Regions from separate parts of the Homo sapiens genome. Here region 2 is linked to region 1. Evidence: fine-mapped expression QTL. A gene starts in region 1. The other region holds a variant in brackets. All regions are shown on one strand. Distances are between the middles of the regions.

Evidence for each region. PIP is the estimated chance that this variant, and not a neighbour inherited with it, causes the effect.
Region 2: its variant is fine-mapped to the expression of NCOA7 in whole blood (TOPMed, PIP above 0.99).

Annotation. Positions count from the first base shown.
Region 1 is chr6:125,787,794-125,793,174 of GRCh38, forward strand. NCOA7 (nuclear receptor coactivator 7) reads left to right here and starts at 3,167. Exons shown (of 16, transcript NM_181782.5): 1 at 3,167-3,274. RefSeq lists silencers at 1,900-1,999, 2,590-3,429 and enhancers at 2,453-2,953, 2,954-3,454, 3,650-3,749.
Region 2 is chr6:125,812,091-125,817,471 of GRCh38, forward strand. It overlaps NCOA7 (nuclear receptor coactivator 7), which reads left to right. Exons shown (of 16, transcript NM_181782.5): 2 at 3,201-3,314. The coding sequence starts at 3,265. All of the region lies in intron 1 of NCOA7-AS1 (NCOA7 antisense RNA 1), which reads right to left. Among named protein-coding and RNA genes, the nearest start is that of NCOA7-AS1, 4.1 kb to the right of the region's middle. The variant T/C (reference allele first, on the strand shown) is at 3,037.

The sequences.
Region 1 (5,381 bases):
CTTTATCATAATAAAGTATATTATTCTAGTAATACCTTTGATTGATGGCCACATTCTAGACTTTAAGAACCACTTGGGATTATCTCCTTTAATTCCTATATCCACCCTATAAAGTTGGTACTGTTACCATTCTTTATGGATAAAGCATATCCTTTACGGATAAAGCAACTGAGGTTAAGTAGTTTACCCAAGGTCAGCACGTGGTGGAGCTGTAGTCTGAAGCCAGAGCCTGAATTCTTAAAGATTACCATGTTCTTAAGAAGTACACTTTCTACTGAGGTTTGATCTGTAGTATACTAAGATTTCCCAAATTATTTCATGTATTATATCTTATCTCCCAATTAAAATTTGACCTTCTATTTAGGGCAGCACTGTTCAAAAGGATTTTCTGCAATAATGAAAATGTTCTAGTTTGTGCTATCCAAAAGCACAGTCTAGCCATAATTTAAATTTAAACGGCTACAAGTAGCTAAGGCATACAGTACTGGACAACACATGCAAGGAAGAGTTTCATTTCTTCCGATTTATCTATAAAGCCAAGGCTTAGGTAAATCAGTTAATGGAAAGGAACAAGTGAAGAATCTTTAGGAGGAGTTTGTACTCCCTTAGCTGGGGAGCAGAAATCTTTATTATATCAGGACTTTCAGTATAATAAAAATGTTATAAGAAGCATATGATACAGCATGCAGTCCTAGAGGAGTTCATAAAGATGGATTCTTACATTCCTTGCAATATCTTTGGAAGACCTTTTTTTTTTTTTTGAGATGGAGTTTCGCTCTGTCACCAGGCTGGAGTGCAGTGGTGCAATCTCCGCTCGCTGCAACCTCTGCATCCCGGTTTCTAGTGAATCTCCTGCCTCAGCCTCCCAAGTAGCTGGGACTACAGGACCCACCACACCCAGCTAATTTTTTTTTTTTTTTTTGTATTTTTAGTAGAGATGCGGTTTCACCATGTTGGCCAGGATGGTCTCGATCTCTTGACCTCGTGATCCGCCCGCCTCGGCCTCCCAAAGTGCTGGGATTACAAGCGTGAGCCACTGCGCCTGGCCAGAAGACTGACGTTTTATAATTGATGGTCACAACTTTAAAAATTCATACTCAGTTATAGGTTTTTGTCTAATAAAAACATCACTGCTTAATTTATTTACAAAACATGGAGTCCATAGAGAGAAAAACAACAGGGGCCTCTTGATAGTAAAAGGATGAGAAACAGGGAAAACTTGTAAGTCAATGGACACTTCCTTCAGAAACTACATTCAAAACTTAAAAATTTTGTTAAAGAGTAAGCAACTGCCAAATTCTCCTAAGTGACTTCAACGTGTTACTTATACATCAGATATGTACATACATATTCCTATAATCAAGTAATTCTAAGTTTGGGAAAATATCATAAATAATAATAGTTATCTTTTGAAAATAAAGTGGGGCTCTAGATCAACCAGTGTCAGGAAGCAGCCAAGTCACACCCCACTGGGTGCTTCCTGGACAAGCGCAGTGCAGCTCCCACAGGGCCTCACACCCAACCTTCAATTTGCTTAAAAGAACTATCTCAAAAAATCTTAGCTATTTAGTCACAATTTGTCCTTGCCAGGGAACATGTTTTTCTTTTGCCTGATTTTCAATAACCTTAGATTGCAAAATCATAAAAGCACTCATCAAAGAACTGTGAGAGCAGCTCAGCTTCCCTGGAGATCTCAAACCATGTTCCTTTGATACAATGCAATCAGCTCTTTATACTTTAGGAACCTAATTTTCCCTTACTAAATGCTAAACAATTTACAAATAACACAATGGCTACAGAAAAAAAAAATCCAACATCTTTACATTCAAATCCCAAAGATATAAACCTGACGTCTAAATTAATACGTGCTTAGTGCAAAACTGGGCAATTATTCCACATTTGCAAGACAGTATAACATGACCACCTGCTGCTGAAATGCCAAAGCCACCACTGTTAACGCTTTGCTCCGCCTTCCAGAGAGGTTATTACAGCTTAAGCTGCGTCAACAACCCAGAGGAGGCTGCTATCTAGTTTATCTGTGTGGAAGGCCTGTAACACACTGTTAACAGAGTAGTTGCAGGCCCTTCCTTGGGATATTTTTCTGCGTATAAGAGTGAATGAACTCCACGGCCAGATCCTCCTAGTCATGTTGCAGTGCTGGTCATGGGACCGCAGAGGGAACAGCACCCAACTGGGGATGGGGAGCTCACAGGCACAGGCCCCGCAGCTGATGCAAACCTTCCCCCTCCAAGGTTCTCTCGAGTCTCTGCCAAGAGTCGGCTGGAGGGCCCAACTGCTATGTTCTTATTGCTGTAATGACTGCAATTTGGCAGCATCCAGGATGGTGTACCGGGAACGGGAGGGGGAAGGAGATGGTGGGCCCCTCTGTTAAACGCAACGCCAGAAGGGACACAGGATGAATTTATTGTGGCCATCGGTCCTGAGCTGGAAGGAAAGTCAAAGGGCTTTAAAGCTGGGGAAAAGCTCTAACTCCTGCTCTGCTGTCAAAGCCTTACTTCCCACGAAGAGTAGGGGCCAGGCGGGCCAACTGTAAGGGGGAAGCGGCCCGGGGTGAGGTAAGAGGACCCTCCTAGGTGCCGCTGCCAGGCGGCGGTTCGCTGGGGCAGCAAGGCGCCCGCACTCGGGAGGCGCCACAAAGGGCCGAGGCCTGCGGAGGCCGCACGCGCAGCTCTCCGGGGCGGAGCCGCCGGGATCGCGGCAGCGGAGGCTGCAGCAGCCGCGGGTAGCCGGGGTGCCCAGCCTCCCAGCTCGGAGGTCGCGGGGGGCGGGGAGGATGCCGCAACTGCAGTCCGAGCGGCAGAGCCCGGCGCGAGCTCCCAGGCCCCCGCAACCGCTGTGAGGCGCAGCGCGCGCCACTGGCCGGGAGGAGCTAGAGGCGGGCGTCTGCACAGCGTCGCGCCACCCGTGACTGCCCGCCTTCAGCCGGGCCCGGGACCCCGTAGCGGCCCATGCCCTGACGGGGGGCGCAGCTGCGGGGCTGGCGAGGCGTCGCGCGTGGGAAGAGGCCTAAGACACCCCGACTGCGGCGGCTGCGCACACCCGATCCGGACGCGGGGCCCCGCGGGCGCGCGCCTCGGAGCTCCCGCCTCCTCCTCTTGCTCCTCCTCGGCGTACGGTCCTCCCCTGACCCCTCCTTCCACCCGCCGAGAGGATGCGCTCCCCGGCGCCCAGCAGCAGAGGCCACCGCTCCCAGAAATGCATGCGACCGATCCCCTTCTCCCGGACCCCAGGAGCCGGCGCCCCCGCCCTGTAGGTAGGTGGTGAGGCGGGGCCCAGCCCTCGCCGCCGCCCGCCGCTGATGCTGCCGCCGAGAGGCCGCGAGCAGGGTCCAGGACCGGCCAAACTTGCCTCCCGCCGGGGGCTCGGTGGAGCGCTCGGAGGTGTGCTAATGGCGCTGGGCGTAGCCCCCTGTGAACCTGAAAACCTCTGCTTGAGCTCGGGAGGCCGAGCGGGGGCGAAGGAGAGATTGACCCTTCCCCGCCCACCCCTTGGGGGGCTCGTGGGGGTGCGCGCCAGTACGAGAGTGGGGAGGACAGGTTGGCATGGGGCTTATTTGGGGAGAAGACCGTTGGATTTTCAGCAGCTCAGGTGGAAATATGTCACTGTGTTTTTCCGGCTGGATTAGCAGATGCGTTCTTCCCATCTTTCTAGCCAAAACATGTAGACAGGCAAAGGGTTATTAGTGGCATGTAGAAGTCGCTGTGGATTTTTGTGTATTTCAGAGCTAGCTAGTTGGTATATAAAATCGATGGGGCAAACCCTTACCGTCAACACGTTAGGGCCAATTTAGAGAAGGTCCTTCTAGAAGTCAGATTATTCTGGAGATCGATGAGGCTGGGATATTGTTGTGCTGAGTATTTAGGAGCCTCTGCTTACGTGAAGGGATGTGTTTTAAGAGTGGCAACTTTGATACAGGTGTCGGGAGTTGAGATTCTGCTGGAAAGATGTACCGGGTCAGCCAGCAGAGGCAGCCTTGTGCCCAGCCTAACTTCCAACTCGATGTTATGCTCTGTATTTCTCAGAAACTGGTTATGTATTAATGCTTTTTTTCTCCTCTAGGTGTAAAGTTTATACATCAGAGCTTTTGGCAAGATTCCCTCTTCCCAGACTATCATTTTTTATTTTATATTCAGCAATAAGGCTTAAAGTTTTGAAAAATGCATCACTGTAAGCTCCAATTTTATAGTCACTTAGGTATAGAGATTTGGAGAAGTGACTCAGTATAAGCTCAAATAGGACAGAATCTTGAATCTGTTTTTTTTTAAATCCTGTAATCTTCTGCATCTTATGCAGAATAAGTACCCATTAGTTATTTGTTGAATGAATGAACTGTGTTTCAAGCTTTCATCTAAAAACCACAATTTAGAATCACAGAATTGTTCTGTAGCCGGTGAAATTTAATTGAATTTCAAAAATTGCCTCTTTGTATAAATAGGCAAACTCAGTTATTTTAACATTTATATTTCAATTCTGACATCTTTAGGACCATATGCTATCTTTCTGTAATATGTCATCAAGGTTATGAGGTAATTCTCCCCAACTCTTAAGTTCATTTCATGTCTAAGCTTGCAAAATTTCCAGTCTCACTGGTAATCATGCCAACTTCAACTGTGCTCTCAAACACAATTTAAAAAGTAAAAGTCGTGTTTTAAAGAAAATTGTAAGTTACGCCAGAGGAAACAATGATTTGGTTAATAAGTGATGTATTCACTTATTTTAGAGTTGAGTTTTTCAGGTTTGATCTAATTATCATGTCTTTTATCACAGGCAAAAGTAGAAATAAAACATGTAGAAGTGTCTGTGATTCTTAAATGATTCAAAATGTGTGATATAGATACACAATTTAAACTGTTTTCTCCTCGGTATAGAAACACATCAGTTTCCAAATTTGACAGCCAGGGGATTGTGAAATGAGGGTTTGCAAGATACAGTGTCTTCCTGCTTTAAAATGTTATATCATTTTGAAAAAAAAAAAGAAAAACAAGGTTAACTGCATCAAACTTTATTTGCTTTATTTTTACACTATGACATTTTCTGTTTTGATTTCATCTTTTTTCCATCACATGAATTTCATGAGTCAGTGTGAACTTCTTTCAGTCTCTGCTTAACAATATTATCTGGGCATGCTCCCAGGTTTTCTTTCTGACATTTTAATGCATCTTTACCATCTTCACTTCATATTACTCAAATGACTTATTTTTACACAATATGGTAGGCCATACTTTATTACTATTGCTTCTCCAACCTACTTATTTTCTTCCTAGATGGATAAGGAAATAAAACTTTCCTATAAAAGTTAATAAGACTGCAGGAACCAACAGTGGGAGGGAACTTATGAAAAAAATTAATTTGTTATGATT
Region 2 (5,381 bases), 24 kb after region 1:
TAAAAAGATAACATAGGGATAATATGTTGAAGTAAATGGCTGTTGGTAGGCAGGCATCAAGATTAGTTCCCTTTCCGTACCTGGTAGCCATGCTTTCCTTGCCTGAGTGTGCCTAGCCCCTTTCACTTCTATCCCTTTGCTCTGGCATTCCTACTTTCTGGAATTGAAATCCTAACCACTTTACCCATTGAAATCCTAACCACTCTGAAAGGTTTATCACCTCAAGCAGAATTGAACTTCACATCTTTTGGATTCTTACTTAGTATTATTCATTGGACAGCCCCAAGTTACTACCCTACAGTTTAGTTATCTGCACAGTCATATTTTCCTGACTGGATGGAAAACTCTTTGAGGGTGAAGCCCAAGTCAGGGATGTGAAGATAAACTAGTAAGAGCTGAGACTGTGTACTCCCATGTTTCTGTACAGGGCTGAATGAATAGTTGTCAGGCTTCCAAGGTGATCTCATCATCATATTGTTTTTTCTCCTTTTCTTCCTAACCACAAGCATATGCTGATAATTTCTAATTCCTTTCCTCTAGCCTTCACTGCCCTTCTGTGCTTTCAGTGTAATCAAACGTCTGGTGAATGTCTCCAACTCCACTATCCCATAGCCGTCTCAAAGGCACAATGTCCACAACCGATTTCTTACCTCCTTCTGCTCCCCTGTCCTACATGCAGCCTGCCCTTTTCATGTATATTGTACTAGATCTTCGGTGCCGTAACCCACGCAGTTCCTGAAGCAGAAACTTGGAGGACATCCTTCATTCCTTACTTTCCTTGTTATCTACACTGCATGACTCATCAAATGTCAACTCATCAGTCTCCTAAGTATTTCTTGAGTCCATCCCTCCTCTTTCTATGTCAACTACTGCTGCCTAGTTTTGGGTGCTCCTCCCTCAATTAGTTTGACTGTAATTTCTTTTTAATGAATCTACTTCACCCTGTCCTTAAATCCTCTCACGTCAATCCTCTACCTCTGCCGTCTGATTATGCTACACTCCCTCATGGAGAACCCTCTGGTGGCGCCCTTCCATGTACCTTGGGGATGAGAAAATTAGTTTTATCTCATGGACCAGCTCTGATGGATTTGGTAATGGCTCTGCAAATGCTGCCGCTGGGTTCAGCATGAGCAATTGATGGCCTCTGACAAGGTGCAGTGAAGGGGGTGGGCTGCACATAGCCAGCTAGGATTAAGTCCAAGCTCCTTAGAGCAGCATACAAGGCTTTCCGTGACCCAGATCCTGCCCATGTCTTCATCCTCAGCTCACTTTACCCTGGAACAGAAGGGAACAATTTTGTCTTCTTGCTTTTGTTCAATTGAAACCTGCTTGCTCGTACCCTTTACCTGGGAAATGCAATTTTTTTTTTTTTTTTTTTTAGACGGAGTTTTGCTCTTGTTGCCCAGGCTGGAGTGCAATGGAGTGGTCTCGGCTCACTGCAACCTCCGCCTCCCAGGTTCAAATGATTCTCCTGCCTCAGCCTCCCAAGTGCTGGGATTACAGGCACCTGCCACCACGCCCGGCTAATTTTTGTATTTTTAGAGAGATGGGGTTTCACTATGTTGGCCAGGCTGGTCCCGAACTCCTGACCTCAGGTGATCCACCCACCTCGGCCTCCCAAAGTGCTGGGATTACAGGTGTGAGCCCCTGCGCCTGGCCGGAAATCCATTCTTAACCTACAACCTTAGTGTGTGCTCAGGATACCTGGGGTGGGCCTTGCATAGTGTTAAGTGTTATTTGTTTTTAATTGGCAAATAGAAATTATATATATGTTTTTTTAATGATATTTTGAAAATATACATTAGAAAATGGCTAAATTTAGCTAATTAAGTATTCCTGAGGTCTATTTTTCAGCAGTACATATCACATTGTCTTGAAATCCTAAGTGTCTCTCCTGAAAGACAATATATACTGTTAGAGCAAATATCATGTCTTTATCTTTGACCTCTGGGACTTATCACACTCCCTTTCATGTAGTATGTATTGTGGATTAATTTGTTTATTGAATTGAAATGAATTAGTAAATAATTTTGATTGTGAATACACTTTGCTTTATTTATTTATATTTACTAATTTTTTTTTGAGACAGAGTCTCCCTTTGTTACCCAGGCTGGAGTGCGGTGGTGCCATCTTGGCTCACTGCAACCTCTGCCTCCTGAGTTCAAGCGATTCTCGCGCCTCAACCTCCGGAGTAGCTGGGACTGCAGGCGTGCACCACCATGCCTGTCTAATTTTTGGTATTTTTGGTAGAGATGTGGTTTCACCCTGTTGGCCAGGCCGGTCTCAAACTACCAATCTCAAGTGTTCTGCCTGCCTCGGCCTCCCAAAGTGCTGGGATTACAGGTGTGAGCCACCGCACAGCCTGCTTTTTTTGATTTAAATTTGATAGGTGAACAAACTATTGCTTCAGGGTGAAAGGACAAATTTTAGGAATGTTAGTGCTCTGCAGAAATTTAGACTGGTGAATCACTGAATAAGTAGACAATTGGAAATTTTTGAGCAGGGGAGTGGCATGATAAAAGTGGTATTTGAGGAAGCTTGATCTGGAGACAACCTTTTTTTATATTATAGGCTTAAGCCACTGCTGGCAAGCGTGGGTGAGGGTCGCAGGGGTGGAGAAGAGGGAGACGCAAGGGTTTAAAGCCATGCTGAGGAACAGCTTCCTGTGTCTTTGTACTTTCATTTCCACATTTGCTCAAGTGGGATGTACTTGCTGGCATGTTTCCGAAAATAAAATAGAGTGCTGAAGTTATTTTTATTTTTTTAAAAAAACATTCTTGTAAAACACCTAAGTGAGCCATTTTACATAATTATCTGAGACATATGCCTTATTAATTGCTTGGGAAGAGTGATTATGAGTTCAATTTTTTTTTAAATAATTAGCATCTACATAGTTAGGCTACAATCTTCCAAAGTCAGTGAAGGTTTTTATTTTGGCATGTTTTAAAATAGTTGTTAGTTGTGAGGAAAATACTGCAGTTTGGTTTTCCATCAGGTTTTGCTTTATAGTTTAACATCTCCATTCTGATTGTAGTT[T/C]CTCCCATGGACATTTGCATTTCATATTTGACTCATGTGACTGTTTCCTGGTTAAAGTTTATTTTTCATTTGTTTTAGTCCATGTAGTTCTACTCCATTTTATTTTTCACATTGGCCAGTGTAAACTTTTAAGTTTACAGTTGCTTTGTTATCTTTTCTTACAGGGTTACGACTCACTGATTAAAAAGAGGGACTTTTTCAAATACTTTGCACTTTTGATTGTGTATTATGGATACCAAGGAAGAGAAGAAGGAACGGAAACAAAGTTATTTTGCTCGGTAAGCATTCATTTTACAAAATTGTTATCAGTACTTTAAAGAAATATTTGAGGGGACTTTGTCCTCAAGTATTACTTCGCATTTTGTGTTTTGTGCTTGTTCATAAATAGAGCAGGTAACCAGGAGAAGTAAACTATACTTTGCTTCATCCATTTTATTCATATTAGAGGAGTGTAACATTTGGTTCTTCTCTTTCTAGCTTTGACACTTCTCTCAGGCCAGTGTTGCTCAGCGAATCCAGCTGTCATGCTCTGACCTGCAAATTGCTCCAAATCCCATGTTTAGCAACCTACCTTGAATTTTAAATCCTAAGTGCTTTGTTCCTACTGTTCTGTAGCTTAATAGGTTGGACTATAACTGAAAATCTCTGACACATTTAAAGCTTATCACCTTGTGGGGAGTCTATTACTAAGAAATATTTTTGTAGGTAGGTGAAATGGGTGAAATTATATTTTTGAATCAGAGTCATTTTTAAGGCTGGAACTTGTCCAACATAAATAAATTTGTTGATATCTGAATAGAAGTAATGTAGTATATGATTGGTTACCATTTACAGATTTAAATGTCTATGTGGCACTCACTAAACATAATAAAATGAATTATATGCTAAACATTTGTAAAACATTTTGATAAGCCAGAATGTTTTCAGACTCAGAGAACATAGGCTTAAAAACATTATGTTTCTCCTAAATTGAAATACATGTTAAGAACTGAATTTAGCCTCATTCCATCCCCAGTCCCCAGGCTGTGCTCATTAGAGATGCATTTATTATTTTCTAAACATGAGCCTTGGAGCCAAAACCAAAGTTTGTTGTTGATGTTTTTATCTAGTAATTAAGCTAGATTTTAGGTTGATAATGGGAAAAGGACAGAAACAATTTAAGGACCTACTATGTACTGAGTGTTTTACTTATTATTTTAATTGCCTTCAAAATAAATCTATGACATCGGTTAATTTATCTCCATTTTACCAGTGATGCAACTAAGACTCAGAAAATATTTTGTCCATTTCATGCAGCATAAGAGTCAGTATTAAACATAAGGCCATCTCCAAAAGGCATGCTCCAGTTAGGAATAGTAAATCATGAATAAGGTTTTGGGGAAGCACAAGTTAAACTACCAATTGTAGTAAAATATTTTCTGCTATTATGACTACAGAGAGTAACCAGATTAGGGAAGGAAGACATCAGGCATCTAATGGATGAGGCACCAGAAAGATAGGATATTTAGAATAAATAAGATCTCCAAAGTTTTTATTTTGAGATAATTTTAGATTCACATGTAGTTAGTTGTAAGGAGTAATAGATACCCTGTATTCTTTATCCATAGTACAGTATCACAACTAGGAAATTCATATTGATACAATCCACCAGCCTTATTCAGAGCATTCATTGTATGTGTGTTTGTGTGTATTTAGTTCCATGCAGTTATATCACATGTAGATTTCTGTGGTCACCATCAGTCAAGATACAGAACAGTTGCATTAAAAGGATCCCACATGCTACCTTTTTGTATCCCTACTCACTCCTTCCATCTGCCTGCCTCCTCTGACAACCACTATAATTTGTCATTTCAAGAATACTAGGTGAATGGAATCATATAGTATGTAACCTTTGGCATTTAGCTTTTTCTTCCCTTCAGCATTACTCCCTTGACATCCCTCAAAGCTGTTGCATGTATCGATAGTTTGTTCCTTTTTATTGCACAGTAGCATTCCATAGTATGGATGAATCACAGCTTTTTAGTCATTTACCCATTGAAGGGCATTTAGGTTGTTTCCAGTTTGGGCTATTTATGAACAAAGATGCTAGATGCTACAATCATTTATGTACAAGTTTTTGTATGAGCATGAGTTTTCATTTCCCTGAGATAATTGTCTGAGAGTGCAATTGCTGGGTCAAAAGATAAGTGTATTTTTAGTTTTATAAAAAAGTGCAATACTCTTTTCTGGAATGGTTGTAACATTTGACATTCCCATCAGCAAAGTCTGAGTAATCCAGTTTGTCTGCATTGTCATTTGGTGGTGTCAATATTTTTTATTTTTATCTTAGCTATTCTGATAAGTAT